2 separate regions of the Homo sapiens genome follow, and region 2 is linked to region 1. A link means that fine-mapping ties the variant in region 1 to the expression of a gene that starts in the linked region. Tissue or cell type: whole blood. Region 1 holds a variant in brackets; the other region holds the start of a gene. All regions are shown on one strand. Distances are from middle to middle.

What was found. PIP is the estimated chance that this variant, and not a neighbour inherited with it, causes the effect.
Region 2: it holds the start of HAGH, and the variant in region 1 is fine-mapped to the expression of HAGH in whole blood (TOPMed, PIP above 0.99). The same link has a PIP of 0.9 or more in thyroid and tibial artery.

The regions. Positions count from the first base shown.
Region 1 is chr16:1,860,429-1,863,109 of GRCh38, reverse strand. It overlaps MEIOB (meiosis specific with OB-fold), which reads left to right. Exons shown (of 14, transcript NM_001163560.3): 4 at 994-1,125; 5 at 2,635-2,681. Among named protein-coding and RNA genes, the nearest start is that of MEIOB, 10 kb to the left of the region's middle. The variant C/T (reference allele first, on the strand shown) is at 1,504.
Region 2 is chr16:1,825,369-1,828,049 of GRCh38, reverse strand. HAGH (hydroxyacylglutathione hydrolase) reads left to right here and starts at 1,225. Exons shown (of 9, transcript NM_005326.6): 1 at 1,225-1,338. The coding sequence starts at 1,263. FAHD1 (fumarylacetoacetate hydrolase domain containing 1) reads right to left here and starts at 844. Exons shown (of 1, transcript NM_031208.4): 1 at 1-844. The coding sequence starts at 811. The coding sequence ends at 146. RefSeq lists an enhancer at 625-814 and a silencer at 905-1,874.

The DNA.
Region 1 (2,681 bases):
GCTGAGACTAAAGATGAGTGCCACCACTAATTTTAAAATTTTCTGTAGAGATGGTGTCCTTCTATGTTGCCCAGGCTGGTTTTGAACTCCAGGCCTCAAGTGATTCTCCTACCTCACCTCCCAAAGTCCTGGGATCACAGGGGTAAGCTGTTGTGCCTGGCCAATTTTTATTTTTATTTTATTATTATTTATTTATTTATTTTTGAGACAAGAGTTTTTCTCTTGTCACCCAGGCTGGATCTCGGCTCACTGCAACCTCCGCCTCCTGGGTTCAAGCGATTCTCCTGCCTCAGCCTCCCGAGTAGCTGGGATTACAGGCGCCCACCACCACGCCTGGCTAAGTTTTGTATTTTTAGCAGAGACAGGGTTTCACCATGTTGGCCAGACTGGTCTTGAACTAACCTCAGGTGATCCACCCGCCTCGGGCTCCCAAAGTGTTAGGATTACAGGCGTGAGCCATTGCGCCCGGCCTATTTTTACTTTTATTTTTGGGACGGGGTCTTGCTCTGTTGCCCAGGCTGGAGAGCAGTGGGGCAATCACAGTTCGCTGAAGCCTTGAACTTTTGGGCTTAAGCAGTCATTCTGCTTCATCCTCCTAAGTAGCTGGGACTGAAATAACTATTTAGATCTGAATTATGACTTAGGTTGAAACAACAGTAAGAGAGAAAAGGAGAACCTAAGGTAATACCTGGATGGCTCAAGTTTACATGTTTTTCCCTCCAAATACACAGATCACCAGGGAAGGGAGCAAGGGGGCAACCTGTTACCACTTCAGCTTGAAATTCATAGAAGCATGTTATAGAATATACATCTGAAAGAACATTTTGTACTATGTATTTGAGTATTTTTATTATCATAATCAATAGTTATTTGATTAAACAAATAATCATTTGTTTATAATTGAAATGAAACTTTTCATGTAACACTTATCAAAAGGCAGAGAAGCGATTGAAACTCTTCATTTGAAAAATAAAAGCATTGGTTTTCCCTTAGATATTGGATCAGAAAGGTACACTTTCAGCTTCACCATTCGGGATTCACCAGCACATTTTGTAAATGCAGCTTCCTGGGGCAATGAAGATTACATCAAGTCTCTTTCTGACAGCTTTAGGGTTGGTGACTGTGGTAAGTTGGCATTGATTCTTAAACTTTTTCCATCATAGTGTTATTCCTGTGGTATGTTTATGGTAACTATACTGAAGGAGTTGAAATGAGACACAGTTCGTAATTCTCAAGAACTTTATCAGAAAAAGTCAAGTGTTAAGAGTATAATGCAGTGGGGCACGGTGGCTCATGCCTGTAATCCCAACACTTTGGGAGGCTGAGGTGGGTGGATTGCGTGAGTTCAGGAGTTCGAGACCAGCCTGAGCAACATGGCAAGACCCCATTTCTACAAAAAATTAGCTGGGTGTGGTGGCGTGGGCCTGTAGTACCAGCTACTAAGGAGGCTGAAGCAGGAGGGTGGCTTGAGCCCTGGAGGTGGAGGTTGCAGCGAGCCAACAT[C/T]GTACCTCTGCACTCCAGCCTGAGTCACAGAGTAAGACCCTGTCTCAAAAAAAAAAAAAAAAAAAAAAAAAGACTGCAATGCGAGGCATTCAGAATGTTATTTGAAGCATACAAATGTGATAGTTATATTTTTACTAAATAACCTTACTGTCTTTGGTTTATTACATATTTCAATTTGCACCAACCCATTTTATTGTTATAATTGGTTATCTTTCTATAGACATATAATACAGCCACTGAATATATTTTGATAAAAGTTGACATTTGACCACTGAATAGATTTTGATAAAAACTGATATTTAAATTGTTAATGGGATTTTAAGGAACTTTACTTTTAGTTGAAATACCAAATCTTTTACATCTACTCACCCCAGTATCTCTTTGACAGAACAGCCTCATATAGTAGGAAGAACAGGAGACTTTGAAAACACAGAGGTCTAGATTCAAATCCCAGTTCCAACATTGACTTACATCATGGCTTTGAGAAAATTTCTTAATCTTGTTGGGTCTCAACTATGAAATAATACCTCATTAGGTTCTTGTAAATATTAAATGAGATGGTGTACCTAGTATAACGTGTGGAACTTAGTCACTCAACAGATAACTTTTATGAGCCCTAGCCTCATAAAAGGAACAAGAAAGCATGTATACTAGTTCTTCACGATAGAAAAAGAGAAAAGAGTAATGCAGGTAATGAAAACACTCCTCTTTAATACTGTGGTCTCAAGCAGCTGACTCCCCATACCGGTTATTTAGAACCTAATCATATATTGCCTTGTATTGTTAACTTTCAGGACAATGTATGGTATCTCTCTAGTTGAATAATAGGGTCATTGAACATATGGACTATGAAGGCAGAAAGCTTCACAAACTTCATAGGGCCCAGTATAGCTATAGACATCCCTTGAATAAATGCTGGAATATTAGTTACATATGGAGATAAAGATTTCAATTTTGACATCTCAGTATCAAAATATGTTATATGTTGATGATGGAGAAGATGAATGAGGTGAGGAATTTTTAAAGCCTAGAGTCGATGATGATCATAAATTAAACAGGATGTTATTTAGGATGTTAGTGTTTATCTTGTTACTGTTTTGTAATATCATCATACTTTGCCCTCTGTTTTAGTGATAATTGAAAATCCTCTGATCCAAAGAAAGGAAATAGAAAGAGAA
Region 2 (2,681 bases), 35 kb after region 1:
TCGGCCTCCCAAAGTGCTGCGATTACAGGCGTGAGCCACCGCGTCCGGCCAATAAATGGTTTCTAATTAAAGGATTGTGACATTTAATAGCCGTTGCTTGCTCTTGTCTTGCTCCCTTCTCTCTCGAAACTTGTTAAGAAATAACTCAATATTCTGGCTTTTCCACTTTAAATGTCATACTGACCAGCCCGTGTATGCCAGCCTCGATCTCATCGTTTTCTTTAACCGGTCCAACTCCCTTTGGCGTCCCAGTCAAGATAATATCTCCTTCTTCCAAGGTTATGATCTTAGAAACATAGCTGATGATGTAGGGGATGGAAAAAATCATGGAGGATGTCTCACCCTCCTGTCTGAGTTCGCCGTTGACCTTGAGCCAGAGCTTCAGCTTGTGAGGGTCAGGGATCTTCTCCTTGGGCACGAACGCGCTGACCGGGCAGGACGCCGTGAAGCTCTTCGCCAGAGTCCAGGGCAGCCCCTTCTTCTTGCACTCGTCCTGCACGTCCCGGGCGGTCATATCCAGGCACAGGGCATAGCCGCCCACGTAGTCCATGGCCGCAGCCTCGGGGACTGCGCGGCAGCGCTTGCCCATCACCACGCCCAGCTCCAGCTCGTGGTGCAGGTTGCGAGTGTACGCGGGCATGAGGATGGGCGAGCCCTCGGGCGCGTAGGCCGTGGACGGCTTCAGGAACAGCACGGGCTCGCTCAACACCGCGCTGCGCATCTCCCTGACGTGGTCCGCGTAGTTCCTCCCCACGCAGACGATGTTCTTTCCCCACTCCCAGAAGCGGGACAATGGCCTGGATGCTGCCATGATTCCCATCAAGTGCCCCTGTAGTCACGTGGGCTGGGCCGGTCAGCTGATGCCTACGGCATCCCGGAGAGGACCAACTGCCTCGGAACGCTGTCCCCCGCAGCGACGGCCCGTTCCACCTCGCGATCTGCCGGGTACCCGGGCGGCGTGGCGCTCGGCCTCCAGGGATCCACTGTGCGGTGCCAAAAAAGAGGCGGAGGCTCGCGGCACAGCTCTCCCGGCGCAGCTCTCGGGCCGCCGCCGCCGCTCCCAGGCCCGTCTCCCGGCCCGTGGCAGTCGGGGCTCGCGGACAAAACAAGTTGAGCGCGAGCGCGTTGATTGGTTGGCGGACGGTGCGAGGTGGACGCTGATTGGCTGAGGGCAGCGCGAGGCGGGCGCTGATTGGCTGCGACGCGCCGACGCCGGTGTTTTGCAGTCCTGGGCAGCTCGGCAGTCCAGCCCGGCCCGGGTCATGGTGGTGGGCCGAGGGCTGCTCGGCCGCCGCAGCCTCGCCGCGCTGGGAGCCGCCTGCGCCCGCCGAGGCCTCGGTGGGTGCGGCGGGGCGGTGCGGGCCGGGGGACGCGGGCCTGGCGGGGCGGGCAGCGGGCGGCGCCGGGCCGTCGTTTGGCGACCGCTGACGCGGTGTCTGTTGCGCAGGTGCCTAAGGCCGCGCTGCCGGGCTCGAGCGGAGGCGGCGCAGGCGCTGAGGCTGGCGCGGAGCGGGCGCGGGGCCGCGGGTGCGGAAAGCGCTAGGTAAGCAGGGCCAGGCCTGCGTCCGCCGCGGCCTCCACGCTCGGGCTGGGCCGGCCGCGCCCCTGACGCCTCCAGGGCATCGCGTCCTGCCCGGGCCGGCGCCGAGGAGAGCCTGGGGCGCGGCTCTGAGGCGCAGCGGGCAGGGCCCCGGGACGCCTGGCCCACCCCGCACCTGCTGCCCCGCTGCAAGGACCGCGGTCTCGCGGCGCCGCCTGCGGTGGTGGAGCTGCCCGCCCGGCGCCGGAGCCCCCGTCTGGGGACCCGGCGTGTCATTCGCCCGAGGTGGTCGCGCGGCCGGGCCAGGCCAGCGCCCCGGGCGGGTGCGCAGCGCAGGGCACTGGGCGGGCGGAGGCGCAGACAGGGAGGCGTCCCTGGCGGTTTCCAGATCTCGCCGAAAGCTGTCAAGGCTCTGCAGGGGGTAGAATGTCGCCATTGCTAAGGAAAGGACATGGATTTTGAGGTCCTCAGAATTACAGTTTTAGGGACATTCATAAGGGTCCAGGCAGAGAGTTCCAGCGGGACTGTGTGCATCGGCAGGGCGTGCGTACCCCATTCTAAGGGAGGCCCCAGCCCCCGTATTTGGTGCCGCCCAGTTCAAGGGAAGCAAGATGCTGTGAAACTTCCTGATTTAAAAAAGAAGTGCAGTGACGCACGCCTGTCATCCCAGCACTTTGGGAGGCCGAGGCGGGAGGATCGCTTGAGTCCAGGAGTTCCAGACCAGCCTGGCAACATGTTGAGACCTCATCGCTACAAAAACTAAACAAAATCAGCCGGGCGTGGTGGCACACAACTGTAGTCTCAGTCACTTTGGAGGCTGAGGTGGGAGGATCGCTTGAGTCCAGGAGGTCGAGGCTGCAGTGACCCTTGATCGCACCACTGCACTGTAGCCTAGGGGACAGAGTGAGACCATATCTCAATTTTTTTTTGTTTTTGGGGCCAAACCGAACATGTTTCTGGACTTGGTCCAGGCCCCAGGCTGCAGGTCCTTGACCTGTTTGTACAAAGTATTACAGTTACAAAACAGCAAGCCGGGAACATTTGCCAGGCAGTGCTGGGCTGAGTGATATGGAAAGGGAATACGGTTTCTGCTGGTGTTGGCACCAGCTGCGTCTTTCCTCAGAAATAAAGGCACCTCCCT